2 separate regions of the Homo sapiens genome follow, and region 2 is linked to region 1. Evidence: fine-mapped expression QTL. A gene starts in region 1. The other region holds a variant in brackets. All regions are shown on one strand. Distances are between the middles of the regions. Region 1 holds the start of FBXL13 (F-box and leucine rich repeat protein 13). Region 2 holds the start of LOC124901713 (a long non-coding RNA gene).

Evidence for each region. PIP is the estimated chance that this variant, and not a neighbour inherited with it, causes the effect.
Region 2: its variant is fine-mapped to the expression of FBXL13 in whole blood (TOPMed, PIP above 0.99).

The regions. Positions count from the first base shown.
Region 1 is chr7:103,066,384-103,082,212 of GRCh38, reverse strand. FBXL13 (F-box and leucine rich repeat protein 13) reads left to right here and starts at 7,417. Exons shown (of 21, transcript NM_001394494.2): 1 at 7,417-7,517. The coding sequence starts at 7,443. It overlaps ARMC10 (armadillo repeat containing 10), which reads right to left and starts at 7,073. Exons shown (of 7, transcript NM_031905.5): 1 at 6,802-7,073; 2 at 6,332-6,436. The coding sequence starts at 6,940. RefSeq lists an enhancer at 6,327-6,376 and a silencer at 6,647-7,486.
Region 2 is chr7:102,687,021-102,702,849 of GRCh38, reverse strand. It overlaps LOC124901713 (a long non-coding RNA gene), which reads right to left and starts at 13,863. Exons shown (of 2, transcript XR_007060461.1): 1 at 13,766-13,863; 2 at 11,241-13,571. It also overlaps the pseudogene RASA4DP. The variant C/T (reference allele first, on the strand shown) is at 9,567.

The DNA of each region.
Region 1 (15,829 bases):
ACAAAGCTAGAATATTCTCACTACCAAGTCTTAATCAGGACCTTTTACTTTTGAATACACTGTTGGCCTCATTAACACCTTATAAAATAGCGTTTCACCCAAAGAATACTTGAAAAGATAAAGGAAAGAATGATAAAAACACAACTTTTTAGAACGGAAAGAATTTGGGGTTCATCCAAACCTCTTATTTTACACAGGAAGAAACTGAAGCCAGGATTGTTCAAGGATCTGCCTAAAGTCACAGGGGTAGTTAGTAGCAGAAACCACAGAAATGAAAAATCAAAGTTACAAGTAAGTCACTTACTATTTTTGGGGGTCTCAGTTTTCTCATCTGCAAATAAAAGGGTTGGCTTAATACTGTAACTGGCTCCAGAGTTTCCTACACAGCCCTGAAGTTGTATGATTTCATATACACATGCATACATACACGTGCACATGCATGGCAGAAATGTGATAAATTTAACTCATCCATATTTGAGATATTTCAAAATCATACCACTCTATGTTATCTCATGAAGTCATTTTTAAAAAGCTTATAGACTGGGTGCAGTGGCTCACGCCTGTGAACCCAGCACTTTGGGAGGCTGAGGCGGGCAGATCACTTGAACTGAGGAGTCTGAGACCAGCCTGGCCAACATGGTGAAACCCCATCTCTACTAAAAACAGAAAAAAATTAGCCAGGCGTGGTGCAGGATGCCTTGTAATCCCAGGTACTCGGGAGGCCGAGGCGGGAAAATTGCTTGAGCCTGGGAGGCAGAGGTTGCAGTAAGCTGAGATTGCATCACTGCACTCCAGCTTGCGTGACAGTAATGAAACCTTGTTTTTGTTTTTGTTTTTAAAAAAGAGAAAGCTTATAGATGTATAAATTCTTTATAAATAGCCATTTAAAATTTTTCTAGGGATTAAATCACTAACGATAAAATTTCACGGTGTTGTATCACAGAATTCTCACTTGGTGGGAAGAGGCACAATGTGGTAGTTAAAACTAAGCCAAGGCTATGGGGTCAGGTTGTCTAGTTCAAATTCCCAAATAAGCTACTTACCAGGTAAGAGACTTAGGCTCTCTCAGCCTCAGTTTACTCATCTGCTAAGTGGGAGTTAATAGTGCCTACCTCAAAGCACTTTTGTACCTAGAATATTTAAAGTGACTAGTATATTATTTTCATTAATGGGACACATAGCTGATTAATAATAGCAAAAGTGGCTTTAGAATCCAGATCTTTTTACTCCTACATTACTCTTTCCTCTCAACCATTATTCCTCCTAGTATATTAATATAATGAGCCTAGCTGAATGCGGTGGCTCACACCTGTAATCCCAGCACTCTGGGAGGCTGAGATGGGCGGATCACGAGGTTAGGAGTGCAAGACCAGCTTGGCCAAGATGCTGAAACCCTGTCTCTACTAAAAATACAAAAATTAGCCAGGCATGGTGGCACATGCCTGTAATCTCAGCTACTCCGGAGGCTGAGGTAGAAGAATTGCTTGAACCTGGGCGGCAGAGGTTGCAGTGAGCCGAGATCCCACCACTGCACTCCAGCCTGGGCAACAGAGCAAGACTCCATCTCAAAAAATAAATGAATAAATAAAAAATAAAATAATGAGCCTATACTTTAATTCTATATATTCTCTTTGAATTTCTAATAAAAACCATTTATCGGCCCAGCACGGTGGCTCACACCTGTAATCCCACCACTTTGGGAGGCCAAGGCAGGCAGATAAGCTGAGGTCAGGAGTTCGAGACCAGCCTGGCCAAGATGGTGAAACCCCGTCTCTACTAAAAGTACAAAAATTAGCCAGCAGTGGTGGCACATGCCTGTAGTCCCAGCTACTCGGGTGGCCGAGGTAGAAGCATCACTTGAACCTGGGAGGCAGAGGTTGCAGTGAGCTGAGATCGCACCACAGCACTCCAGCCTGGGCGACAGAGCAACACTCCATCTCAAAACAACAAAACAAAACAAAAACCATGTATAACTTTTTAGTAAAGAAATGTAAAACTTAAAACTCTAAAAATTTTACAGGAGGGCGATCATCAAATACTCAGCTCTTCCACTGGTGAGTTTTTGGACTGCTATTACACAGGTGAGGAGTCAAACATGTGTTCTACTTTCCATCTAGCTCTGTGCCAACAAGACTGTGAAAGAATCTTAGGCTCGGTGGTTTGTGGTCTCCTCCAGTAAATCAAGGAGAAATTAGAATTCTCAAAGGGAATGAAAAGTGACTACCACATTATAACGTAGCAAGACAAATTTCAAGATAACTGTCATGGTTCAGAATCTTTCCAACTGGGAACACAATATGCCTGTTTATGTAGTCTTAGGCCCTTCAGTAAAATTATCTTCTCACTACAGGAACTCCTAGTTTTTAAAGTGAATTCCTAATTTTTAAAGTTTTTATAGCTATCATGAATGATATATATTTTTTGAAACAGGGTCTCATTCTGTCAAATAAAATATTTTCAATTAAAATTTTGAATTGTTACTGCATGTATACAAGAAGTTATTGATTTGGGTATATTTACTTGTACTCAAGATATTTTATTAAACTCATTGCTTCTAGTAGTTAGTTAATTCTCTTGGATTTTTCCAAGTAAATCATTATGCCACCTACGATTATAATTCTGCCTCCAATATTTATGCATGTTGTTTTCTTATCAAGCTATGACTCCAGAAGAACGTTGAATAGTAGCTGTGATAGCAGACACCCTTCTCTTGTTCTTGAGTTTGATAAGGATGCTACTAACTAGTGTGTCTATTAAATACGATATTTGCTTTTGGGTTTTGATGGATGTACTTGATCAACTTAAGAACATTTCCTTCTATTTATTCCTTACTTGCTGCAAGTTTTTATCAGAAATGATAAAATTTTTTTTCTTTTTTTTTCCCCGAGCTTCAGCTATGGAAAGAAATATTTTAATGCCTTTTTATTATGAGGTCATCATGTGGCTTTTCCTTTTTCTAGTATGACTCCTCCTTCCATGTCCATTTGGCCTTGGTATATTATTACTTTAATCCCCTGATAGATTTGACTTGCTAATATTTTAAGATTTTTATATCTTTATTCATAGTTGAGACAGATTTATAGTTTTTCTTACCATCCTTGTCAGGTTATGACGTTAGATTGTTGGATGAATTGGGACTGTTTCCGTCTTTTTCAATGCTCTCAAACCACGTTAGTACAAAAATTATTTTATTTTTTATTTTTTAAGACAGAGTCTTGCTCTTTTGTCCAGGCTGGAGAGCAGCGGCACAATCACAGCTTACTGCAGCCTTGACCTCCTGGGCTCAAGGGTTTCTCCCAAAACAGCCTCCTGAGTAGCTGGGACTACAAGTGCACACTACCATGCCTGGCTAATTTTTCTATTTTTTGTAGAGATGGGGTTTCACTATGTTGCCCAGCCTGGTTTTGAACTCTGGGCTCAAGCGATTCTTCCACCTCAGCCTCCCAAAGGGATTAGAGGTGTGAGTTTAAAACAAAGAAAAGATCGCCACTGCACTCCAGCCTGGGCAACAGAGCAAGACTCCGTCTCAAAAAAAAACAAAAACAAAACAAACAAAAAACAAAAGATCATCTTCTGAAATCTAAGCGTGATGATGACTTTATTAGTCCATTCTCATGCTGCTATGAAGAACTGCCCGAGACTGGGTAATTTATAAAGGAAAGAGGTTTAATTGATTCACAGTTCCACATGGCTGGGGAGGCCTCAGGAAACTTACAATCATGGTGGAAGGGGAAGCAAACACTTCCTTCTTCATAGGCAGCAGGAAAGAGAAGGAGTGCAGAGCAAAGGGGGAAGCCCCTAATAAAACCATCAGATCTCCTGAGAACTATCACGAGAAGAGCATGGAGGGGAGGGGAACTGCCCCCGTGATTCAATTACCTTCCACCGGGTCCCTCCCACGATGTAGGGATTATGGGATTACAATTCAAGATAACATTTGGGCCGGGCACAGTGGCTGATGCCTGTAATTCCAGCACTTTGGGAGGCTAAGGCAGGCACATCACCTGGCCAACATGGTGAAACCCTGTCTCTACTAAAAATACAAAAAAAATTCGCCAGGCACATGGTGTGTACCTGTCATCTCAGCTACTCCGGAGGCCGAGGCAAGAGAATCGCTTGAACCCATGAGGTGGCGGTTGCAGTGAGCTGAGATCATGCCACTGCACTCCAGCCTGGGAGACAGAGTGCGACTCCGTCTCAAAAAAAAAGAAAAAGATGAGATTTGGGTGGGGACACAAAGCCAAACCATATTGATGATGAAATGAGCATTTCTCAAGTCTTCTTCAATGATAAAGGAGTAGCTTCAGGAAGAAGGGACTGTGAGCAAATTATTTTTTAAGCTGCCTTACCTAAGATAATGATGATTATGGGAACTGTTAAGTTTAAAAGACTGTCCACATTCATCAGATTGAGTCAGTATAACTGAGAAGATATCTGAGTCCAGGACACCTTCCCAATGTACTTATACAAAAATATCTCTGACATGGGCAAAGACAACAAATTAGGCTTTGTAAATGCTATGATTTGAATGTCTCCTGCGAAACTCATGTCGAAACTTAATTCCCAATGTGGCAGTATTGAGAGGTAAGGCCTTTAAGAGGTGACTGGATCATGAGGGGTCTGTCCTCATGAATGAATTAATCCATTCATGGATTAATGAGCAGGACTGGTGGCTTTATAAGAACAAGAGACCTGAGTCAGCATGTTAACACACTTGCCCCTCTGGCCTTGGGATGCCCTATGCCACAACAAGAAAGCCCTTACCAGCTACGGCCCCTCAATCTTGGACTTCTCAGCTTCCATAACTCTAAGAAATAAATTTCTTTCCTAATAAATTACCCAGTTTCAGATATTCTATTATAAGCAACAGAAAATGGACTAATACAGTAAGGGTACATACAAATCTTTAAAAAAAAAAAGCTGAATTATACCTAGTGGCAAAAGTGAGAGAGACCTTCCCCTTCCACTCCCTTTTTCTTAAAGCATTCCCTCGTGCAAACTTGTAATTAAAAATCCTTTATTGGCCAGGTGAGGAGGCTCAATCCTGTAATTCCAGCACTTCGGGATGCTGAGGCAGGAGCACTGCTTAAGCCAAGTTCAAATCAGCCTGGGCAACATGGTGAAAACTCATCTCCTAAAAAATTGGAAAAATTAGCCAGGTGTCGGTGTGCACCTGTAGTCCTAGTTACTTAGTGGGGTGAGGTGGGAGGAGCCCAGGGAAGTGGAGGCTGCAGCTGTGATTGCGCCGCTGCAGCTGTGATTGCGCCACTGCACCGAGCCTGGGTGACAGAGGGAGTCCCTGTCTGAAAACAAAACAAAACTCCTTTTTCTGCTTCTTTGATACAAATGTAAATCTTTTTGTTTGTTTTTTGTTTTTTGAGACAGAATCTTGCTCTGTCGCACAAGCTGGAGTGCAATGGTGCAATCTTGGCACACTGCAACCTCTGCCTCCTGGGTTCAAGTGATTCTCCTGCCTCAGCCTCCTGAGTAGCTGGGATTACAGGCACCCACCGCCAAGCCCGGCTAATTTTTGTATTTTTAGTAGAGATGGGGCTTCCCCATGTTGGTCAAGCTGGTCTTGAACTCCTGACCACATGATCCGCCTGCCTTGGCCTCCCAGAGTGCTGGGATTACAGGTGTGAGCCACCACACCCAGCCTGTAAATCTTTTTAAAAGTGAAATAAGCATTTGGCCAGTTTTACAGCCCAAGAAAGACTTTCTTAAAAGCTTTGGAGCCTACTGTTCGAAAGCGTACTCTTTGAAACCTACTCTTCCAGGAAGATAGATCCCCAATCTCCCCAACTCTGTGAGTTTTTAGCCTGGGCACCTGGTTCCACATCATAAAGATATTTTTATTTTTCCTCTGGATAAAGGCAATTAGATAACAACCACCCCAATTACCAGTAAATTCAGGATAAACTACATGTAGCAAATGGTACTGTCAAGTCCTCTTACCTAAGGACAAATTATTTTTTATCTTGAGAACACGTATGTAATATGAAATCGGTTCTATCTGTCCAGCTACATTTAAAGGAATTAGAATTCTTCCTGCTATCCCATTAGCAAATTGCCCGTGATGTGTGAGGCAATTTAGTTTGTGCTTATTCAACAATGAAGCTGTTTAGCTCTCTTCTACAATTGTGGACAGGAGTTTCTTGGATGGCAGATATGATATTTTAAATTATTTCCCTAACAGCTTCCATGATGTGAAACATGCCTTTGGAGGGTTTTAATGTACCGATCAACTTTTGGACAGAAACCGAATCATGCATTTGTCCGCTGGGAGGGTGTGTCTCGCGCAGACAACTGTTCCCATTTCCAAAACACACACCAGGCTGCGAGGTCTTGGACCACTGTGACTCCCAGGTACCTCCCGTCTGAGGCCGGGCCGAGCGCCCGCACAACTGACCCTCTGACGTCCCTTCTTCCAGGGCACCTGCAAGCAGAGATTGACCTATGGCTCTGGGCCCCTCAACAGCCCTTCCACAATCGGGAGAATCCCTTTAGTTACACAAAGGCCCGGAGCAAGCTTTAAAATGAGAGGCCATCAACAGGTTTTTAAGAAATCTAATCCTCCGCTGTGACGCGGAGCTCAGGCAGGAAAGCCAGGGCAAGTTTTCATACCAGTATAGTCAGCAAAGGGGCGGCGGGGGCGGCGCAGCACCCTGCACTCACACAAGTACTGCCTCTCCCTCTAGCTCGGCTCCTCATTTTACCCCGAGCACACGCAAGCCACCACCCCGGCCTGGGGAGCCCCCCTGCCCAGTCCCCGCCCACCTGCCGGAAACCCCGGGGTCCCACCTGCGGACTTCGAAGAGCGTATCCCGAGCTCGCGGTCGCCCCGCCGCCGACCCCGGGTCAGCCTGTAAATGCAGTAGCAGGCGCCCGCGCCGAGCAGCAGGCCCGCCGCCACCCAGCCCGCGCCCCGGGGGCCACCCATGCTGCCGCCGCGGCAGAGCCGCAGCGCCGGGCCAGGGCAGGAGGCTCGCGGGGGCCAGCGCGGAGGTCTCCAGCGCACGCGGGCCTAGCCGCCACAGCAAACGCCACCTGACCTGGATGTGGAGAAAGGAAATGGGGTCTGAGCTCCGCCTCCCGGAAACGGCCTAGCTCAAAGCCTATAACCGCCCACTCCAGCCCGGCGCGTCCCGGCGGCTTCTCCCAGGCGAGGCGGGGCGGTGCGGGGCGCTGCACACCGGGAGGGGGGGGTCGGACGGTGCGCCCCACGCGGAGACGCCGGGGCCCGCAACCCAGAGCCGAGCTTCCCGTCTCTTCCCCCGGGGCGTGAAGCAACCATTCCTCCCTCCCGCCCCTGGCAGCGGAGCGCGGGGCGGTGCCACGCCCAGCCCCGCCCCCTGGTTGCCGGGACAACGCCCGCACGCGCCCGGCCCCTAGTCCCAGCGCGGGGAGGGTACTATCGCAGCTTCTCCGTCAGGCCTTGGGCCATGGCCTCGCTACGCAATGCCAACCCGAGGCTGAAGAACTACTTCAAGGAGAACTACATTCCTCAGGTCTGCGAGGTACTGGACACGCGTGGCAGCGGACACAGACCGTCGGTGGGGAGTTAGAAGGGGGAGGAGTCAGGAAAGACTTCCCGGAGGAGGGACTAGGTTTCGGGATTGGGGAGGAGTGGAGGGAAGGCGGGGCAGAATGCGAGAAAGTGAAGTCAAATTCGGACTTGTAGGCGATCAGGGCTGAAGACGCTGATTAGAGAGAAAACAGAGGGTGATGGTGGCTGCACGTGGGGAATGGGTGACATCTCCCAGGGGGAATGAGCACAAGGCCCAGATCGGAAACCCCAAACTCAGATTTTAAGGTTTGGACAAGAAGTACCTGAGGAGTGGAGGAGTGAGAAAGAAGTGCCAGAGAGCCTGAGGAGGAAAATCAGCAGACTGGCATTATGAAGAATGTTGTCAGAAGTAGGGAGTAGGCACTAGTCACCTAAGATAAGGAGCTGGATTCTGCCCAAGGTGAGCCTGAGGTTTCCATGGAGCCGTGAGGGCAGAAAATAGATGGAGGTTAGCGGAGGGAAGAGTGGAAGCTGAGACCTTTGGTCAGTGTAGTCAGCCCTTTGTGAAGGTAAGGACCCTCTCAACCAGGATTGCCTTTAGACAACAGGAAGGACTGCCCTCCTACTGCCGTTATAAGAGTAGGGAAGGAAGACAGGAAGGGGATAGACATTAGGTTTTGTAGGTTTGGGGGTAGGAAGCTGAGAACATTTGCCTTTGTTGACCTCTTTTTTTCTCTACAAATAGTTGGTGAGATATTTACCAAGAATGTGCGTGTTTGAGTGGGGATGGGGATGTTGGTGCAGTAGGAGGTTCGAGCAAAGATACGTTATGTGGAGAATGAGGGAGAGAGATGTCTAGGGAAAGAAAGAGGAGGTCCTACCTGAGGGTAGTAACGCTCCTAGGCGGTTGGGAGGGCAATTTGGTAGAGACCCCCCACCCGTCTCTTTTTTGGATGGTAATTGAGAAATATTTATTAAGATGTTAAATACATGTACCCTTTAACCAAGCATTTCTACTTCTAGGGATCTACTTTAGAGAAATACTTGCACATGTGTTCAGGAGGATGTACAAGGATATTCATTATAACTTTGTTTCATAGTAAAAATAGTAAATGACCTAGAGTGACTAAGCGAATGAGGCATTATGTAGAATAAAGTATATCTGTACCTACTAAGAAGAAATGTCCTCCAAGACATATTATTATTATCATCATTATTATTGAGACACGGGGTGTTGGTCTGCCACCCAGGCTAGGGTGTAGTGGCTCCATCCTAGCTCACTGCAGCCTCAAACTCCTGGGCTCAATTGATCCTCCCACCTCATCCTCCCAAGTAGCTAGGACTACAGGCATACACCACATGGCTGGCTCCCAACACATATTATTAAGTAAAAAAGAAAAAGTGCAAGTTGCTTAGCAACTGTCCATTCTGCTCTAGCTGTCCATTTGATTTCATATATGTTGTATATGTGTTTATGTACATATATGTGTATATATCTAGCTTTAAGACAATAGTGCATGCATAGAACCTATGCCAAACTGTTAATAACAGATGTCTTGTGGAATGGTTTTGGGGGAAAAGATGGAGAATTCTAACTTTTTACTCTGTCCATAGCTGTATTGTTTTAATTTATTACAGTGAGTTTTGTGTTGTACCTCTATACAATTGTGCTTGAAAATATGTAGGGAGAATGGTACCCATCTTCCCGGTTGTGTGATTTTCTCAAGTAGCAGTCAGTAAATCAGATGTAGGTACAGAGATAACCAAGTTGACTTCGTCTGGGATAGGAATTTGCCAGGCATATATTAATAGAATGGAAAGGCAGTAGGTTAGGGAGCTAAGCTCCTGAGTATCTGAAGTGATGGGCCAAGGACTCTAAGGACTCAGTGGGAAATGAGAAAAGGATATCATACTGATACATGGACAGAAAGTGAAGACTCCTCTAAGAGGTGAGTGAAGAGAAGTAGAGGGAGTAATTAAGTGAGGGAGCTGGAAACACAGGAGGTGGGGGTCAGAAAGTGGAACGTTTATATTTACAATTCAGGGTGCAGCCATTCTGAGTGATGGCTCAGTCTGTGATATGGCGGTGGAGCAGGTGGCAGAAATGGACTTGAGTTGAGAGTCAGGGTACATCAAGGAAGGGATGGCCTCTTCTCATCTAGGCCGCCAGTTACTATAACATCACAAAGCTGCAATGAGGCAGTCCCCAGTTCCCCCTCTGGGTGAAAGCATTCCTTCCTTACCAGCTTACTGCATTGTTCTGCACCCATAGAGGAGGCCCTTATATGCATTCTCCATTGTCTAAGATCATGTTCTCCTGAGGAGTCCTTCACTCACCTCTGCTAGCACACTAGCAGGAAGTGCAAAGGAGCAATCCTCTGGGCCCCACACACCCACCTTAAACTCATTACCCATTTCTTCTAAGAGAATATCAAGATGAATTCCATTCTGCCTCATATCCTGTCTGTACATTTATTTATCTGACTCAATTTCCCAGATGGGTTTTATACTTTTTTTTTTTTTGAGACAGAGTCTAGCTCTGTCGCCCAGTCTAGAGTGCAGTGGTGCCATCTCAGCTCACTGCAACATCCGCCTCCTGGGTTCAAGCGATTCTCCTGCCTCAGCCTCCCAAATAGCTGGGACTACAGGCACCTGCCACCATGCTCAGCTAATTTTTGTATTTTTAGTCGAGACAGGGTTTCACCATGTTGGTCAGGCCGGTCTCGAACTCCTAACCTCAGGTGATCCACCCGCCTCAGCCTCCCAAAGTGCTGAGATTACAGGCATGACCCACCACAGCATGACCCACCATGTCTGGCAGGTTTTATACTTTTCTAAAACCCATCTTCTGCAAGCCTTGGAATACATAAATAACCTTTCATTAAAGTTTTCCCTGTATATTTAACCTCTTCTGAATTTCATCTACCTGTCCTAAATAAAACCTGATTTTCTACCTACAATATCATTTTCCTGCAAATCTCTTGAATAGAGACTGATTTTTTTAAAAATCAGGCCTGGCTTGGTGGTTCATGCCTGTAATCCCAGCACTGTGAGAGCCCAAGGCAGGTGGATTGCTTGCCAGGAGTTCAAGACCAGCCTCGGTAACATAGTGAGACCCTGTGTGTACAAAAATTAAAAAAAAAAAAAAAAAAAAGCTAACTTGTCTTAGTGGCTCACACCTGTAGTCCCTGCTACTCATGAGGCTGAGAGGAGAGGATCACTTGAGCCCAGGAATTTGAGGCTGCAGTGAACTATGATTGCACCACTGAACTCCAGCCTGGGTGATGGAGCAAGACCCTATCTCTAAAAAAATAAAAAATTAAAAAACATTTTAAACAATCCTGCTTGGTCCCCTGGGCTTACTGAATCTGTTGATAGATATTTTTCATCCGTTTTAGAAAATTCTTGGTTCTTTTCAAATAGTACTTCTATTCAGTTCTCTCTTTTCCTTTTGGAACTCCAATCGTACATATGTTAGCTTTTTTTTTCTTTTTCTTTACCTTGTTCTACATGCCTCTTTTGATCTCTTCTGCTTTTTCCCCATTTTCTTCTTTTTGAGCTCAAGTTTGGATCTTTTTCATTGATGGTTTTCAAGTTTACTAATTTTGTTTTATGCTGTGTCCAGTCTACTCTTAAATACATCAAATGAAATCTTAATTTTAGACATGTTTTTCAGTTCTAGAATGACAATTTGATGTTTAAATAAATTCTGATTATTAGAATTATGCATCTTTTCATTCAGTTTGCCTTTTTCTGTTTTCTTTATTTGTTCTCTCCAAATCTGTTAAAATTTGATCCCCAGTGTTGGAGGTGGGGCCCAGTGGGAGGTATTTGAGTCATGTGGGCAGATCCCTCAAGAATGGCTTTGTGCCCTCCCCTGTGATAATTAGTGAGTTCTCCCTCTATTAGTTCACCCAAGAGCTGGTTGTTTAGAAGAGCCTCCCTCTAGCTGTTTCTCTTACTCCTTCTCTTCCCATGTTACATGCTGGCTCCCTTTGCCTTCTGCAGTGAGTAAAAGCTTCCTGAGGCCTTCGCCAGAAGCCGAGCAGATGCTGGCACCATGCTTCTTGTACACCCTGCAGAACCCTGAGCCGCATACAACTCTTTTCTTTATAAATTACCTGGCCTCAGGTATTTCTTTATAGCCGTGCAAAATGGATCAACACACATGTTGATGGTTGTTATTTTAAAATTATTGTTTGTTGCTTATGCCTGTAATTCTAGCACTTTGGGAGGCCGAGGTGGGTGGATCACTTGAGGCCAGGAGTTCGAGACCAGCTGAAACCCTGTCTCTACTAAAAATACAAAAATTTGCCAGGTGTGGTGCACGCCTGTAATTCCAGCTATTTGGGAGGCTGAGGCATGAGAATCGCTTGAACCCAGGAGGCAGAGGTTGCAGTGAGCTGAGATCACACCATTACACTCCAGCCTGGGTGATGGAGTGAGACTGTGTCTCTAAAAAAATAAATAAATAAAATAAATACATAAAATTAAATCATTGTTTGTTAACTTGAATATCCAGATCATTTGTGGGTCTGCTTCTATTGCTTATTTTCTTCTGTTGATAATTCAAGACATTTTCCTGCCTTCATACATACCTAGTAATTTCTTTTTTTTTTTTTTTTTTGAGACAGAGTCTTGCACTGTCGCCCAGGCTGGAGTGCAGTGGCGGGATCTCGGCTCACTGCAAGCTCCGCCTCCTGGCTTCACGCCATTCTCCTGCCTCAGCCTCCCGAGTAGCTGGGACTACAGGCGCCTGCCACCATGCCCGGCTAATTTTTTTGTATTTTTAGTAGAGACGGGGTTTCACCGTGTTAGCCAGGATGGTCTCGATCTCCTGACCTCATGATCCACCTGCCTCGGCCTCCCAAAGTGCTGGGATTACAGGCGTGGGCCACCGCGCCCAGCCCATACCTAGTAATTTCTTATTTTTATTGGACATTGTGTGAGAAAAGAACAATAGAAGTTCCAGATGATATACTCTTTCGCCAGCAAAGGTTCGTCCTTTCCTCTGTATAGGGTACAGAGCTCATGACCTCAGTCCAGGAAGGGACTGATCTGTGTTGAGCTTGGACTGTGGATTTATTTGGGTTCGGTTTACATCTGGTTCATCCCTATTCCTCAGGCATAGCTCTTCTGGGCTTTTGATTGAGAAGCTAGCCAGTCTCTGTCTCCTCAGACTGAAAGATTGTGAGAGATTTGGTTCTGCTCTTCGGAGGTATTTAAGCTTAGCTCTTTAGTTTCCCTTCTAGGCCCTCAACTTTTATATATGTATATATATTCCCCAATTTAAAACTTTTAAAAGTAAACTTTAATATCAAAAATGCAAACTTGGGGAGGGCATAAAAATCACACACAAGGCTGCCACTTCACACTTCGAGGGTTGCACAACGGCCGGGCAAAGGCGCTCCTCACTTTCCAGATGGGGCGGCAACCAGGTAGAGGCGCTCCTCACTTCCCAGAAGGTGCAGCGGCTGGGCAGAGGCGCTCCTCTCTTCCCAGACTGTGGGGCAGCCAGGGAGAGGTGCGCCTTACTTCCCAGACAGTGGGGCGGCAGGGCAGAGGGCCTCCTCACTTCCCAGAGGGGGCGACAGCCAGGCAGAGGTGCTCCTCACTTCCCAGGTGGTGGGGCGGCCGGGCAGAGGTGCTCCTCACTTCCCAGACGGTGGGGCGGCCGGGCAGAGGCGCTCCTCACTTCCCAGATGGTGGGGCGGCTGGGCAGAGGTGCTCCTTACTTCCCAGATGGCGTGGTGGCCGTGGGCCCTCAACTTTAAAATCTGGCAAGTACATTGAAGGTTATGCTGGCTGTATGTTTGAGGCAGGCTTCCTCTTCCTTCCCTGAGATTATGAAAGACTCACTCTGCCTTGTAGGAGTTGATGTTCTAGCTCCTCAGCCTCCTGTGTGAACACTCCCAGAACTCACTGCCTTATGGGAGACAGTGGCCACACTTGGGGCACCTCAAGTTTCTAACCTGTCATGTTACCCCCGTGCCACCACCATAAGCCTATTGGTTTCTCTTCCCATTTGTAGACTTTCTCTGCCTGGGCCCAGCCCTGTCCTCTTTCCTACCCAGAGCTGGCACACGTTCCCAGGGAAAAAAAGCAGCTGTGCATTGTCAGCTCACTTCAGAAAAATTTCCTTCCCCTGGAATTCCATGGCTCGCCAATATCTTTTTTAAATGTGATTTTTGTAATGTGTCTGTTTTTTTCTAGTTGTTGTAGCAGGGTCATTGGACCATGGTGACTTTCCACATCCTACTCAGATATGAAATCCTAGGGAGACTGTCTTGTTTCACTCCTCAGTTTACCTCAGATCTAGAGATAGGTTAGGTGTCTTCCTTGGCTCCCCATTTCCACTTCCAAACTATGTATCTTCCCTCCTTTTTCTAAAGTCTCAGCTTCTTTGTAGTTCATAACATCAGATTTAGCACTCACTGTCTTCATTATGTACCAATCTCTATGTTTTGTTGGTAGCATTAGCATCTGGCTCACCATCTTCCTTTTTCTCTACTCCTGTCATTGTTCTTGTGCCCGCAGTATTCACAGGGATGTTCCGTTCACATCCTTGACCTTTCTTCCAGTTATCTTTGCTTTCACCGTTCCTCAGTCATGTCCTTCTATGGTCATACTCTTAACCATTTTATCCTAAATTGCTGTACCATCTCTGAAATCTCCATTTCTTCATCCACTTATCTCTTAATTTCTTAGCTCACTCACATTGGAGCTTCTACACTAGCACTTCTTCAACTGACTCAAACCACCATTTCATTCAATTATCTTTGCACTGTCAAATATTACTCTTATGTCCTTATTTCTCTCTTTACCCATCTTAGATTCCTTGGTTCATCATTATTGTGGATGTCTATTACCTAAATGTCTTTACAACATTTAGTGATTTAAAATAACAGTATTCATTTTATTATTGCCTCTCACAGTTATGGGAGTTGACAGAATATTATTGCTTGAGATCCCTCATGCACTTACATGTCAGAGTGGCTGAGGTTAAAATCATCTTGAAGGCTTCCTTACCTACATGCCTGGCAGTTGATGCTGGCTGTCGATGAGGACCTCTCCTGAGACTGACAGGTAGAACATCTATGTGTAACATCTCCATGTAGCTTGAGCTTCCTCACAGCGTGGAGGCTGGGTCCCAAAACAGGTGTCCAAGAGACAGAGCCAAGTAAAATCTCCTTTTATAACCTAGCCCCAGAAGTTACTCAACATCACTTTCACTGTATTCTCTTCATTACAAGTGGATTATTAAGACTAATCCATATTCAAGAGGAGAGGAATTAAACCCCACCTCTTTATGTAAGAAATATCATTTGCAGACATGCTTTTAAAATGCCACCACACCATCATTATGATCACTTTCAAATACGATTATCTCCTTTACCTGTTTCTCCCTCTGTCCTATTGATGTGACAAACACCCATCCCTGGTAAAACTCAAATATCCAGCAGTCCGTGCTTACCCCTGAGCAACTGAACATTATTTAAAGGAAGAACACACAATTAAACTGAATTGTGTCACTTTAAATTCAATCCTCAGTTGTCAAATGGGCTCTCAATATCCATAGTCCTACATTTCCTAGTATTTTCAGTTTCTGACAATTCCATTACACCCACAGTGAAAGAGTAGACAAAAAAAAAAAAATTCTTGGGAGGCCGAGGCGGGCAGATCACCTGAGGTTTGGAGTTCAAGACCAGCCTGACCAACATGGAGAAAGATCACTAAAAATACAAAATTAGCTGGGCGTGGTGGCGCATGCCTTTAATCCCAGCTACTCGAGTGGCTGAGGCAGGGGAGTCTCTTGAACCCAGGAGGCGAAGGTTGCGGTGAGCTGCGATCACGCCATTGCACTCCAGCCTGGGCAATGAGAGCGAAACTCCATCTCAAAAAAAAAAAAAAAAATCCTCACAAAATTCTTCCACTGAATATTAAAAAATCAATTGCATTTCAATTCACTAGAACCAAAGTTTTAAACAGTAGCTTTTAAAAATTACATTCATAGGCTGGGCGCAGTGGCTCACGCCTGTAATCCCAGCGCTTTGGGAGGCTGAGGCGGGTGGATCATGAGGTCAGGAGCTTGACACCATCCTGGCTAACAAGGTAAAACCTCGTCTCTACTAAAAATACAAAAAAAATTAGCTGGGCGTGATGGCGGGCGCCTGTAGTCCCAGCTGCTCAGGAGGCTGAGGCAGGAGAATGGTGTGAACCCGGGAGGCAGAGCTTGCAGTGAGCCGAGATCGCACCGCTACATTCCAGCCTGGGCAACAGAGTAAGACTCTGTCTCAAAAAAAAAAAAAGAAATTACATTCA
Region 2 (15,829 bases), 380 kb after region 1:
TCCCTGCCTTTTCTTCCAAAAATTTATCATGTAATTCTGAACCAATGCAGTAGTGTAGGTTCTGATACTTTCGTAGCATAAGTATTTGCATATATATTCGGTCAGTTACATACATTTCGTGGGTTGGTACATGAAATAAAGAAGATTTCTTTTATTATTGCATATACTACATTTACTTCCATAAAATTAAAATATCTTGTCATATAATGATAGAAAGAATATATATTTACCTAACTAACTATAGTTACTGCAGTGGAGCACTGAAATCTGCTGTTTTCTATCAGCAAATAAGCAAAAAGGGGAATATGATGAATTATACATTCTCATTATGTGAACTTTAAAAAGCAAGATGAACATTTAGGAAATACCCATATATGAGGAGAGGTTTTTTTTTAAGTAATGGCTGACTATGTATTCAGCTGTTACCTTGTCATGCCTGAGAGCTATACTTTAGAAAATGATTTAGAGGACTTTTGAATTTCAGATGATAAACTTTATATAACTGAATAAAACATTCTAAGAAATTTGATAGTCATAGTAAAAAATAAGTTTAAAAAGTCTTAAAGCAAAAACAGAGTTTATTAAAAACCAAGAAGCAAAACCAAATTGGAACAGAATGCAATAAAAAAGTAATTTTAAAAATAATAGTGCTATATATGTGTATACAGGATCTAAATTGCTAAATTGTTCACTTTTTCTACAGTTTTGACTTTTTCTTTTATTTTGACATAATTTCAGATATACAGGACAGTTGCAAGATTAGTGCAAAGAATTTGCATGTATCTTTAACCCAGATTTCTCAGATGCTAACATCTTACCACATTTGCTTTATCCTTTTCTTTCTATCTTCTTGTTCTCTCAACCTCTCTCTTTCTCTCTCTGAAGACACGATGCCCCTTTATACCTAAATGCATCACTATATTTCCTAAAAATATATTCATTCTCTTAATCATAGTACAATTATATCAGGAAATTAACATTGATATAATACCATTTTCTAATCTGCATACCTTATTCGGGTCTTGCCAGTTGTCCCAATAATGTTCTTTATAGCAAAAGAAAATTCTAGGTTATGTATTGCATTCAGTAGTCATCTCTTTAGTCTCCTTTAATCTAAAGGAAATTCAGGATTTCTTTAGTTTTCATGATATTGACACTTTGAAGAGAAGAGGCCGGTTATTTTGTGATTTTCTTTCAATTTGGATTTTTCCGATTTTCTTATTATTAGATTCATGCTATGTATTTTTGGTAAAGATATAAAGACACAATCTTGTATCCTTCTCAATTATCTTCTACTAGGAACACATGATGTTGCCTTGTCCCATTGCTAGACTTGTTCATCTTGATCACTTGGTTAAGGTGATGACTTCCAGATTTACCTTTTATTTATTTTTCTGTTTGAAATTAATAAGCACCTCAAGAAGAGATACTCTGAGACTATGTGGTTGTCTTACTCCTCTTAAAATTTTCACCTACAAGTTTGGGATTTATTGGGGATACTTACCCAGATCAACTCTTGTTATGATGGTTGTCAAATGGTGATTTTCTAATTCCATCATTTCTTCTATATTTATTAGGTGGCTTTCTACTATAAGGAAGAACTTTCTCTTCTTTCCTTATTTATTCATCTTTTTATCAGTGTGGACTTAGGTTTCTCACTGTCATTCCTTTTCATGCTATCATTGTCCCACATTTGGCCAGTGTACACCCTTCAGGTAGGCTCACTTGTCCTTCTGATATGCTCCTGTGATTCCTTCTGCACTTCCTTACTTTCTGGCACAAGAATGTGTTCTGGGCTCATCTTGTATTTTTTTTGCTCCAGCCCTAGAATCAGCCATTTCTTGGAGGATCCCTAGTTCCTGTTACTGGAGAATGATATTTGGAAACTAAGATATTAATGCTGAGCATGGTCATTGATCCTAGAATGTCATAGCTTCTAGCCCCTCTCAGTGGACAGAGCTAGGAAACAGATTCATGAATATTTATATCCACACAAATTTAAATCTATTTCTACATCTATCTTTATATATTTTTTAGTCTAACTTTTATTTTAGATACAGGGCATACATGTACAGGTTTTGTACATGGGCATATTGCATCCAGGTGGTAAGCCTAGTACCCAGTAGGTAGTTTTTCAACCCACACTCCCCTTCCTCCCTCCACTCTCTAGTAGTCTGCAGTGTCTGTTATTCTCATGTTTTTGTCCATGTGTGCTCAGTGTATAGCTCCCACTTATAAATGAGAATATGCAGTGTCTGGTTTTCTTTTCCTGCATTAATTCACTCAGGATTATGGTCTCCAGCTCTTCTATGTCTCTGTGAAGGACATGATTTCATCCTCCTATATGGTTGCATAGTATTCTGTGGTGTATATATATAACACACTTTCTTTATCCAATCCCCCACTGATGGGCCACTAGATTGATTCCACATCTTTGTTATTAATAGTGTGGTGATGAATGTATGAATGCATGTGTCTTTTTGGTAGAATGATCTATTTTCCTTTGGTTTTATACCCAGTAATGGGATTGCTGGGTTGAATGGTAGCTCTGTTTTAAGTTATTTGAGAAATCTCCAAACTGCTTTCCACAGTGGCTGAACTAAACTAAAGAGCCTCTTCACAGCAAAAGAAACCATCAACAGAGTAAACAGACAATCTACAGAATGGGAGAAAATATTTGCAAACTGCATCTGAGAAAGGTCTGATATCCGGAATCTATAAGGAACTTAGACAAATCAACAAGCAAAAAACAAATAACCCCATTTTAAAAATAGGCAAAGGACATGAACAGACGTTTCTCAAAAGAAGACATACATGTGGCCAACAAAAGTAGGAAAAAGTGCTCAGCATCACTAATTATCAGAGAAATACAAGTCAAAACCACAATGAGATATTATCTCCCACCAGTCAGAATGACTATTATTAAAAAGTCAAAAACAATGGATGCTGGCAAAGGTATGGAGAAAAAGAAATGCTTATCTTTGTATTTTTAAAACCATGATTTCCTTCCTCTAATCTTAAATTTTAAGTGAAGAGTTCACATTTCTGTCAAAATCCATCATATGTCGAACTTTGCAATAGAATTTCTACTTCTCCACCACTACCCTTAATAATCAAATCAAAAATAAGGCTAAACTTGTGTCATACATTTGTTTGATATAGTAGCTACCAAAGACGTTGACTCAACATACACTTATGATGTAAGGTCATGCATTTTTAGGTCTGACATAAGTTGTTTGAAACCCAATCATACCTGATCTTTGTACTAGTTAAAATAACTCCTCCCCGTGTGGTGGAGATATAGCCCACTTGTTTCTCATCCTGCTAATCCCAAACCCAAAACACCCCACAGCTGCTAACCGTGATAAAACCTAATGATCAACACCAGAGTCATATAAATAAGTTTCCCCCTTCTGGCGTGTTTTCCTTAAACCAGCCAATCCACAACTCCTGTTAGAAGACCGGAGGGATAATACCCATATACCTTAATAAAGGTGAACTCCCACAGCTGCTCTCTCACTCCCTACCCACTGCTGAGCTCCCTGCCACCTCCAGACTTATCTGCGCTCCCCATCAGCACCCCTAAGCTGTCAGATCTGTAAGTAATAAATTTCTTCTGTTTCATGCGTTTGGTTTCACCTTCTCATTGTTGTCATTGTATCTCACCTGACTCACACACAGGAACCTGACGGCCTGCCCGTCAGGGCTCTTCTAAAAAGCAGCTATCTTGGCTTGTAGCCACTCTTCACAGAGTGACCTTAAGACCAGTTTATAAAGAAGCCATAACAGTAAAAATCACAACAACTTGAGTTTATTTGTAGCAAAAGTTATGCTAATAGTAAAGATTATCTTCAAGGTTTTCTAAGCCAAAGATTAAGGTTTGTTTTGCAAAATTAAAGAACTTAGGACAACTTCTCATGCATGTTGATCCTCAATCTAACAATAAATATTTCAAGAATCTCTCAATATACATGGATGCATAATTTATAGTTATTAATCGCTGGGTATAACAGGCCTCTGATAATTATATCCAAGAGCTTTCAATAATAGTTTCAAAGAACTGTGCTACGTACACTTTTGAGTAGTATCAATATCAGCAATTTTACTGCCTGAGAACTCCTCCTCAAAGCAGTGACAAATTGCAAACTTTCGGAATATTCAGAATTATTGGCTTGAGAAAACTTTATTTCCATAACAACACCACTAAGATATTGTTCCTAATTGGCATCTGTAAATTTATTTTCTAATTCTTTTAGGATTACTCTAAAATTTATGGGTCTCACAAGTTTTTAACATACTGTGTATAACCTACTTTATATTCCTTCAGTTGTCTTTGTCTTTTAACCTCTTTGTCTTCCTTCAGTTGTTTAAACAGAAACTGTATCTGCAAAAATGGCAAAAGTGCAGATGACAACTGAAGGAAAGCAGTCAAATCCACTTCCAAGGGTCCAGTTGCTTGGCATAACATTGGAAAACACAGAAACTGCTTATATCATTCATTGTTATTAATGCTAGTTGCACAGTTGTCCCAGCACTGCCAAGTTGCAATGCATGGTTGTCATGCTCTCGTCTCATATTGCCTGAAGAGTGTGTTCAGTATGACATTCACAGGCCTCTGCAATTTATACCCAAACTACTTTTACAATCTAGTCATTCACTTAGATTCTCAAGAGCTACTCTTTATGTTGTTCCGCTCAGCAGGGACTCTCCCATATTTAGAAGGAATAACGTCAGATGTCTAAGGAAACTGGCATAAATTCAAAATACATGATGTAAGATCATGGCTATCCACCAATCTGCCTAGTCGTATTGCCTCCATTGCTTTTAAGCTGTGCCATACATACTAAAAAACCAAACAAAATGCTTGCATAGACTGCACTTTGCAACCCCTGGGTCTGTTCCTAACCTTTGAGATCCTGGCTCAAATCTCTTGTCCTTCAGGGAACTGCCTGAGTAGCCAGCTCACAGGGGTTTCTCCAACCTCTCAACTCTTCCCACATCACTTGACTAATCAGCATAAAATATTTTGCATAGGAAATGTAGAGTTCCATTGAGAACACATGGACACAGAGAGGGGAACAACACACACCAGGGCCTGTTTGGGGGTTGGGGGCTGAGGGGAGGGAAATTAGAGACAGGTCAATAGGGGCAGCAAACCACCATGGCACACGTAGACCTATGGAACAAACCTGCACATTCTGCACACTTATCCCTTTATTTTTTTTAAGAAGAAAAAGAAAATTTAGAGTTCCCCACTGACATTATGATCACATTAAGACCTATGATCGCAATAAGACCTAACAGGGCAGGAACTACACTGTGTTAATTCACTCCTTGGAATGAATGTTCAAAGTGATGCTTGGGGCTGGGCGCAGTGGCTCATGCCTGTAATTGCAGCATTTTGGGAGGCTGAGGTGAGCGGATCACCTGAGGTCAGGGGTTCCAGACCAGCCTGGCCAACATGGCGAAACCCCGTCTCTACTAAAAATACAAAAATTAGCCAGGTGTGGTGGTGCATGCCTGTAATCCCAGCTACTCAGGAGGCTGAGGCAGGAGAATTGCTTGAACCTGGGAGGCAGAGGTTGCAGTGAGCCCAGATCACACCATTGCGCTCCAGTCTGGGCAACAAGTGAAACTGCGTCTCAAAAACAAAAGTGATTAAGTGATGTTTGGAAACCAAGCCACACAACTCCCATCAATGGGTTGTGTGGGTTAATGTAGGACACCTGCTCCCCAAATTGGCCATTGCTGCGTAACTATGAGGCCTGGTACTCCAGACTTTTTTTTGTCCTATTGGATATTTAATCCTGTCCCATTTTCTTTATATTGTTAATTTTTATTTAAGGTATAACATATAGAGTAAACCTCACAAATATTAAGTGTACAGATCAGGTTTTTTATGTATGCTTATAACCAACATGTCCATAACTGAATTTGTCATTCTTCTCCCAATCATCTGTATTCTCTTTGTCAGTTTGAGAGTTAAATATCTCCTTTAAATATGTATCTCATTGATTTATCTCTTCTCCCACCATATTCTCAGTCTGATCAGGATCTACTTCCAGGAACCTGAGGTCTCCCTTGAGACCTTCCCAGTCATTGCTCCCACCCAAGATAACCACTCTACTGGCTTATCATATATTAGTTTGTCTCTTCTTGAACATCATTTAAATGGAGTCATACAGTATGTTTTTCTTTGTGTCTGGCTGCTTTTGCTCACTTTTATAGTTGTGAGGTTCATTAATAGCATTATGCGTGGTGGTAGTTCCATTTCTTTTTTTATTGCTTCTTAGTATCCTGATGATACAGGACAGTCAAGCCCCCAAATTGAGGCTTGCCCTTGAGAGGGTTGTGATGTTAAACAGCAACTTTTATTGAAGTGGCAGTGAACTGCAGCAGCAGAGGTTCTGATCCTTGTGGAGCAGGGATACCCCATAGGCAGTGTACCTGGAATAGGAGCTCAGAGGCAGTTCTGCACTCAAATTTATATCCACTTTTAATTAGATGCAAATTAAGGACTGGTTTATGCAGAAATTTCTAGAATGAGGTTGGTAACTTGCAGGTTGTCGGGTTGATGCCATGGAAAGGGGCAGTAACTTCCTGATGTTACCATGGCAACAGTAAACTAACATGGCACACTGGTGTCTAATGGGGGAGGTGCTTCTGCCTCAGACCTCTTTTAGCTAGTCCTCAATTTGGTGTGATGTCCAAGCCCCACCTCCAAAGTCGAGTTCTGCCTCCTACCTCACTACTGTGTAAATATACCATAATTTGTTGATCCATTCTATTTTGTTTATAAAAATGGATTATTTCCTGTTTTGAAGATAATGAATAAAGTTCTGTGATCATTCTTATGCATGCCTTGTACTTAAGAATGAACTTATCTTGGGTATATACACAGGAGTGGGGTTAATCTGTCATAGTCTAGGTTTATATTCAGCTTTAGTAAAGACCTTCAATCAGTTTTCCAAAGAGGTTGAACCAGCATACACTCCAATGGGTATTATGTTAGATGCTGTCACATGTCCAGGGTTAATACAAGTGATAGCTTTCACGGTATTCCCTAGTTAGGATTTCTACTTCTATCTGTATGTGCTTATGTAAAACAGCACTGATTTATAAATGTGGCCTCACTTGTCAAGGGTCAGTGTGTCAGATGCTGAACTTTTCCACGACTTGGAGGCCGTAAAATCATTTTTGTCTTAATGCTGTGAGCCAAAATCAAAACATTAAATTATTTCGCCTAAGCGAAATAATTGGCTCTTTGCTTTTTACCAAGAGCCAGGCATCTCCTCCCTTCTCTTTATTTCCTGAAAATAATTATTGTTCCAATCATTGTTAAGTAAGTCTTTGACCTGACTTAGCCAAGGGGTGGAAAAAAGGAGGCATAGGAGCATTGCATTTGGGAGGCATAAAAGGGAGAACAAACATTGTAGGGAAACACCGAGGAAGTAAAACTACGAATCAAAATAGAATATGAAACTAAAAGTAGAGTGTGGATGTGTACCAATCATCATGGGCAATGATGAAGATGGATTAAGTTTGTTAATATATGACCTTTTCACGAAAACAGGTTATATATAAAACTATGAGTGGTTGTACTTCTTACAAAATATGTAATAGCAGCATTTGTGTCCAAGTTTCAGTTGCATGTCAGATTTGGTGAGTATTAAGATGTCAAGAACCTTGTGAACAATAATTTTGGACATTAAGTCTTAATCTATTTAAAAGATAAAAGATACAGCATTCACTATGTGCCAGGCACTGTGCTAGATGTTTATAATTATTATTACTAAAGCTACTGAAATTCATCCCTTCAACTCCTCCTTGGTTTTGAGCACCTCCTGTGTGCTGGATTATGCTAGATACCATGAGAATTTATGGACATAAAGCATAAAAAGGTTCCTATTCTTTAGAAGCATTATTTGTGAACAAGAAGATTGAAATATTAAATGTCAACAAAAGGCATATGATTTTGGACCCAGAGGATACAAGCAGTGTTATCAGAAGGGAAAGGGAGGCTTGACTGCTGTGGGATGAGACGGTCTAGAAAGGCTTTTAAGGCAGTAAGACATGAAAGGGGATATTGCATCCATATACACAGGGTCCACTATGAATCTGGTTTCTTTGCCCATACCCATGTATGCACATACTTGGAATATCTTCATGTAGATGACCCCAAAGTACCTCAAACTAAACATACTCACAACTAAATCCATTATCCTTCTCCGGAACCGAACTCTGCTCCTGGGTTCTGTCAGTTGGTTCTCTCTTGTTAATATCTCTTGAATTTGTGTTTTCCATTCCTACCATCTCACCAGTTAGAATGCCGTTTCAGTGATGAAGATGTGAAGAGAGACTGCACAGTGGCATTGGCAATGAGGAAAAAAGGAGTGAATACATTTAGGAGAGATGTTAAGGAAGTATAAAATTCTATAGACTTAGTGTCTGAGTGGATGGAGTGGGTGAGGAAAAGATTCTAAATTGATGCTTGGCATTCTGATTTAGGAAATCAGCCAAATTATGGCACCATACATGAGAGTTCAGAAGAAGCAACAGGTCTGAAGGGAATGTCCAGTATGTGGATCTGAGCCTATGGGGGAAGTCTCTGGCCAGAGGTGTAGTAGACACGGTAGGTTGTTGATATAGTAATCAGAATGCTTTCTGAAAGAATTGCAACTTGATACCTATGTATATTTAACAACACGGTCTACCACTGTGTATTTAAAAAAAGATGCTGCCATTGTTTACCTAATTTCATACTTGTAAAATTATCTTTTTTTATGAGGATATTCACATATTCAAAAGATGCTTTATTTTCTATATATTTTGTTCTCTTAAGGCTGGTACCAGATAAATAAATGTTGGTTTTTTAAATAAATTTCTTTGATGTAAAGTCTGTCTCTGTTGCCCAGACTGAAGTGCAGTGACACAATCTCAGCTCACTGCAACTTCTACCTTCTGGGCTCAAGCAATCCTCCCACCTCAGCCCCTGGAGTAGCTGGGACCACAGACACATAACACCAGGCCTGGCTGATTTTTGTATTTTATGTAGAGATAGAGTTTCACCATGTTGTCCAGGCTGGTCTCAAACTCCCGGGCTCAAGTGATCTACCCACCTCGGCCTCTCAAAATGCTGGGATTACAGGTGTAAACCCCTGCACCTGGCCTAAAATTAAACTAAAGTTTTAATTACTGAAAGTATCGGTGATTTGCTGACGCTACTAAAGCTTCATTTATTTTGTAGGTTGGACCTTCTATAGAGTTACTAATGAGCTTCTTGAGATAATCCCTAATGACATTTCAATTTTTTTCGAGGAATTAAATATTTTCTATTTTTTTATACCTTAAGTAACTGGTTATAAAGGGGAAAAGATAAGAACCCCACCCTCAAGGAGCTTACGAAGTAGTTTCAAGTATGTAAACTTACTTTTCAGAATGATTCTGTAATAGGAGGTTTGAGATATTGCTATTTCCATCTTAAAGATTCTGGAAGATTGAGACTCGCCCTGGGTTACACATCGGGGTGGAATTTGGAACCCAATCTTCCGTTTCCTGCTTCAGCG[C/T]GCATTTCACTTGACATTCACACATTTAAACACTGCTATTTTAGGTTTTACAATTTGACTTTTAAAGTAGACTGTGTATTAAAACAAAGATAACTATGTACACTCTGTTTAAATATTTCTAGTATGTTTCCCCATCCTCTCCTTAGTTATCACCCCTCACTAACAGCTGTACTTATAGGCTGTGCTTTAAAAAATGACCAATTTTCTTTTATAAACCTTCCTGCAAATCTTGCTATTATTGACATGTTTTCGCTTTTCCTTCAGACATCTAGGCACCCTTGCAAGAATAATAATTTTTCAAGATTTTCCTTGGCTGTCAAGAATCTTCAAAGAGACGGATAGTTTATTGAACAGTACAGATAGGTTCTATTGTTCCCATATTTTTGTTATTATTGTTTTTACTCTGACAGTGGGGTGGAAATTTAAAAACTTTTCCAGTATGGAAGAAGACCTTGTAATGCACTTAAATATTTGAGATATCAACATAACTAAATCCATTTACAAAGATTGAATATTGATGCTAAGATTATAAGAATACAGGCCATATTCCACTTTGCAAAGTAGATTAATACCCCTCAATTCAGTTAAATGGTACACTGCAGAAGAGGTCAGGGTAAGAGGAAAGAAGGCACTGTGTTAGGATGTCCTCCTCTTGGCATCTTTAAAATGACAAACATGGAGATTGATTTTGGCCAGGAATCTGGGGTATTGTCAGAACAACTCTATTTGAACAAGCTGTGCTTAGTGGTAAGAGGGAGTCAGAAGGATGTTGAAAAGGGGACAGAGAAGAAGAAAGATAAAGAAAAATTGGTCCTTTACCTCCTCACATACAATCTGTGAGATTATCTTCCTTAACTCATTCTGAAAAATCTTTCCTGAGCATCTACAATATGCCAAACCCAAGGCTAGGAATGGGAGGAAAACGCAGCAGTGGCCCTACCCTCAGTGGCCCATCTGTCCCTCTGTTTGTGTGGTTTATTTGCCTCTCTTCTCCTTTATCCTTTTCTAGTTCTTTACTGACATAATGAGATCCTAGTTTGTATGTGTATGTGCATGTGTTTAATTACATAGTTAATACATTTTAATCACCTCTTTATTTTTCATTGATTGTTAACTACTGTTGTAGCAACTTGATTAAATATTAAAAATAATAATCTAAACTTTGATACTGGCTTTCTAAATAGTCGCTGAACGGATGTTGCTCTTCAAAATAAGTACTAGGAGAAATAATAGTATTTTCTCCTTTGAGAGAAGGTTGGCTTTGGAAAGCTCGTGGCTCTTAGGTGAATGTGCATCTTGTAAAACAGTCTCTTTAGTAATGCAATCACTATTTTAATACATTGGGGACTAAAGATGGAAGCTTAAGGATTAAAATAAAATACCTTTTTCAACAAAAAATGTATTAATATATAGGTAGAGAGAGGGTACTGTTGTCTGTTGGGTAGATTCCTTGGCAAATAAACAGAAGGGAGTAGGATTGGGAATTTGTCCATCTGGTAACCAGACTTACAGGTAAATCAGTAAAATGAGTTAGCAGGAGTCAACCCAGTAAAGTTAGCTAAGACAAGACAATTACTAAAGTTTTCATTAGGCAAGCAAGATCAGGTTCTCAATGGTCAAGCAGTGAGATGCAAGCCAGACTAGGAAGTTAAGGAACAGAGTATCAGGGAATCATAAGAAAATTGTAATAAAATTTATTCAGCCATGGGGCTAGTTTTATTTATATAAAGCTATTTTAATATATAAAATATATACATAGTACAAAATCCAGAAGGTGCAGAATAGTAAACAACGAAAAGTCAGCCTTCTACCCCATTATACAATCTAAACTCCCCCTCCCAAGAGACAACCATAATTAACAATCTTTTATATAGCCTTGTAGAACATCTATGCACAAAGAAGTAAGTCGTAGTATAATATACACACTGTTTTTTTCACATATTTATACAATTTTTATTTTTTCAATGTATAGTATTTCAAGGCATGAATGGAACATGCTTTTTAAAACTAGTTCCTTATTATGAGACATTTAGGTCATTTCCAATCATCTGCTATTACAGATAATGATAGAGTGACTAACTTTATACATGCATCATTTAATACTGGAGTAGTCACTGAGCTTCAGAGAGAGCGACAGAGGGGGCTGGGACTTCGACTCCAGTGTTCTATCTCCATATTCAGAGCCCTTTAAGGTTAAGAATGTGGCTGGGCATAGTGGCTCATGCCTGTAATTGCAGCACTTTGGGAGGCTGAGGCGGGCGGATCACTTAAGGTCAGGAGTTCGAGACCAGCCTGGCCAACATGGCGAAACCCCATCTCTACTAAAAATACAAAAATTAGCCTGGCATGGTGGTGGGCACCTGTAATCCCAGCTACTGGGGAGGCTGAGGCAGGAGACTCACTTGAACCAGGAGCCAGAGGTTGTAGTGAGCTCACGCCACTGCACTCTAGCCTGGGCCCCGTGCTAGACTCCGTGCCCCGCACCCCCCCCCAAAGAGAATGTGTGTGTGATTAAAATTTAAGTTAGAGACAGTCTCACTATGTTGCCCAGGCTGGTCTCAAACTCCTGGCCTCAAGTGATCCTCCTGCCTTGGCCTCCCAAAGTGCTAGGATTACAAGGGCTAAGAATTCTAGTCATTCATTCACTCACTCATTCATTCATTCATGAATAAACAGTTTGCCCTGCATGTGTACCTGGCCCCCTCCTGGGCGGATACGGCAGGCAAACGGTGCAAGGGCGGCTGCCGGGAGAAGGTGGGCAGCTGGAGTGGGACTGGGGGAGACAGGATCAATGTGACCTGCGGTGGTCCCCAGGTGGCCGGGATGCAGTACCTGCACGGCGTCCTGGGCCCCATCATCAACAAGGTGTTTGAGGAGAAGAAGTACGTGGAGCTGGACCCCAGCAAAGTGGAAGTTAAGGATGTAGGGTGAGGCCGGGGGTAACTCCGGGGGTTGCGGGGTGCAGCGGCAGCGGGTTGGGATCAGGCCCTGTCAGCATGTGTGTTTGTGCTTCTGCCCACCCGTGTATTGTCCCCTGTGTCCGTGTCCTGGCTGCTGTGAGAGCCACTGTTCCTGTCGTGGCCCTGGCGCTGACCGCGACCTCCTCTGCCAACCCGCCCCGTTCCACGCAGGTGCTCCAGGCTGCACCGCCCGCAGACCGAGGCCGAGGTGCTGGAGCAGAGCGCGCAGACGCTGCGCGCCCACCTGGGGGCCCTGCTGAGCGCGCTCAGCCGCTCGGTTCGCGCGTGCCCCGCCGTGGTGCGCGCCACCTTCCGCCAGCTCTTCCGGCGCGTGCGCGAGCGCTTCCCCGGCGCCCAGCACGAGGTGCGCCCTCCACCCGCTGGGCTAGGCTGGGCCGGGTTGGACTGGGCTGGGGCGAGGAGTGAAGAGCGGTGGGGAACCAGGGAGCGCTGGGGAGGACCAGGGAGGCTGTGTCGCAGCGAGGGTCAGGGACAGAGCCTAAGGGGAGGGGGCTGCCAGGAGCCCTGGTCTGGGGGACTCCAGCCCGCGCTCTTCCGCACCCCTCCAGAATGTACCGTTCATCGCCGTCACCAGCTTCCTGTGCCTGCGCTTCTTCTCCCCCGCCATCATGTCGCCCAAGCTCTTCCACCTGCGGGAGCGCCACGCGGACGCCCGCACCAGCCGCACCCTGCTCCTGTTGGCTAAGGTGCGGGCCTTGCGGCCACGGGCGGGATGCACAGCTGGGTGTCCTACCGGGGCCCTGGCCTGGACTGCAGAGTGTTCCCTACCGGCTCCGGCGAGGCCACTGGCACGCCCACGTAGGCACTGCACTTCACAGTTTGCAAAGCCTTCCTGTGGCCACCTTGTCCGAGCTCCATCTCATGGATAAGGGAACAGGCCTGCGAGGGGTCGGGGGTTGCCAAGGCCGCCCATCCTGTCGGTGGTGAATCGCGGGACCTTCCAACCCGGGTCTGCTTACTCTCAGGCTGCACCTATGTGCCCGGCACCGGGGTGGGGTATCCAGTGCAGCAGCGTCAGTTAAACCTACAGAGGAAGGCCCAAGTGGTCTCAGTTATCATAAGGCATCAAACTTCATGATCCTCTCCTCCCTGATCCCTAGTGGGGCTGGAGGGGGCCCGTGGGCATGGCCTCTGTCGCCTCTGCCTCCATCGCTACAGCTGAGTAGCAAAGACTTGGGGAGGGGGGGTGGGAGGGGGTGCAGTGGCTAGGCCCCTAACCTAGCAGAACCTGGTCCTTCCTGCTGTCACCTCCAGGCAGTCCAGAACGTGGGCAACATGGACACGCCGGCTTCCAGGGCCAAGGAGGCTTGGATGGAGCCGCTGCAGCCCACCGTGCGCCAGGGCGTGGCGCAGCTGAAGGACTTCATCACCAAGCTCGTGGACATCGAGGAGAAGGACGGTGAGCGCCGCCCTGCACAGACCCGCCCACAGCCTACTGCTGACGTTTGCTCCGCCCTTGAGCCCCACGGCCCCACCCATCGCTGTTTGTTCCTCTCGTGGCCCCACCCACCGCCTGCTGTTGGCATTTGCCAGGCCCCCAGGCCATAGACCCACGCACCACTGTTTGTGCTTCCTGTGACCCTGCCCACTGCCTGCCGTTGACGTTTGCCCCACCCCTAGACCCATGGCCTCACCCCCGCATCATCTGCGCCTGTTGACATTTGCTCCATCCTTGAGCTCCATAGCCCCGCCGCCACCTGCTACTGACGCGTGTCCCGCCTCCAAGCCCATGGCCCTGCCTTCCTCAGTCCACCTGTCACCCCGCTCACCACCAGCTGTTGATGTTTGCTCCGCCCTTGAGCCCCATGACTACGTCCACTGCCTGCTGTTCAGATTTGCTCAGCCCTTGAGCCCCATGGCCCCTCCCACTGCTCCGCTCCCCCCAGTCCCGCCCTCATTCACTGGGCTCTCTATTCCCCTCCCTCCCTGGCCTGGCAGAGCTGGACCTGCAGCGGACGCTGAGTTTGCAGGCGCCACCTGTGAAGGAGGGGCCACTCTTCATCCACAGGACCAAGGGCAAGGGCCCCCTCATGTCCTCCTCCTTCAAGAAGCTCTACTTCTCCCTCACTACCGAGGCCCTCAGCTTCGCGAAGACGCCCAGCTCCAAGGTGGGTAAGGAGGGAGGCCGGCAAGTGGGGCTCTGAGAGGCCGGCAAGTGGGGCACCTGTCCCCTTCCTTGGAGCCCACTTGAGGTACCCCTGGGGTCAGAGAAGAAAGCCAGGTGTGTGGCATCTGTACTGCTTGTCAGAACCTAGGAGGGCCGGGCACGGTGGCTCACGCCTGTAATCCCAGGACTTTGGGAGGCCAAGGCGGGTGGATCACTTGAGGTTAGGAGTTTGAGACCAGCCTGGCCAACATGGAGAAACCCCGTCTCTACTAAAAATACAAAAAATCAGCCGGGTGTGGTGGTGGGTGCCTGTAGTCCCAGCTACTTGGGGGGCTGAGGCAGGAGAATCACTTGAACCTGGGAGGTGGAGGTTGCAGTGAGCTGAGATCGAGCCACTGCACTCCAGCCTGGTGACAGAGCAAGACTCCATCTCAAAATAAATAAATTAATTAATTAGTAAATTAATTAAAGAGTGGTCAGGGAGGACCTCTGATGGGTGGCATTCGAGCAGGGACCTTGTAGGAGGGTGACCCAGATGTGTGTCTAGGGCAGGGACATGTGGGACAAGTAAGAAGCCTGCAGCTGGAGGGGGGTTGGTTTCTTCCGGGCTTGACCGTCCTGGCCTGTGGGGAGGAAGTCACAGACCTGTCCCTCTGTGCCCTTCCCTCTAGGAGTTCCCTTTTGTGTCAGGGTCCAGAGCCACTGGGAAAAGTAGTGATATCAGGGCCACCAAATATATTTGGCGGGTTCTGGAATACCTACGAGCGTGGCCAAGGGGCCAGCGGCGGCTGAAATCCAGCCCACACCAGCCTCCTGGGCTCCTACCATCCCGGTGCCTTCCGTGGGGACAAGTGGAGCTGCTGCCACCAAAAAGACGAGACAGGTGGGAGAGGAGAGGATGAAGTCTTGCTGTGTTGCCCAGGCTGGTCTTGAATTCCTGGGCTCAAGCGATCCTCCCACCTCGGCCCCCTATAATCCCAGCTGTAGTCCCAGCACTTTGGGAGGCTGAGGTGGGAGGATCACTGGAGGCCAGGAGTTTGAGAACAGCCTGGCCAATGTAGCAAGACCCCATCTCTAAAAAAAAGGAATTAGCCAGCCATGATGGCATTATAGGAGTGAGCCACTGGGATTATAGGAGTGAGCCACTGCACCTGCTCTCCAGGCCATGCGCCCGG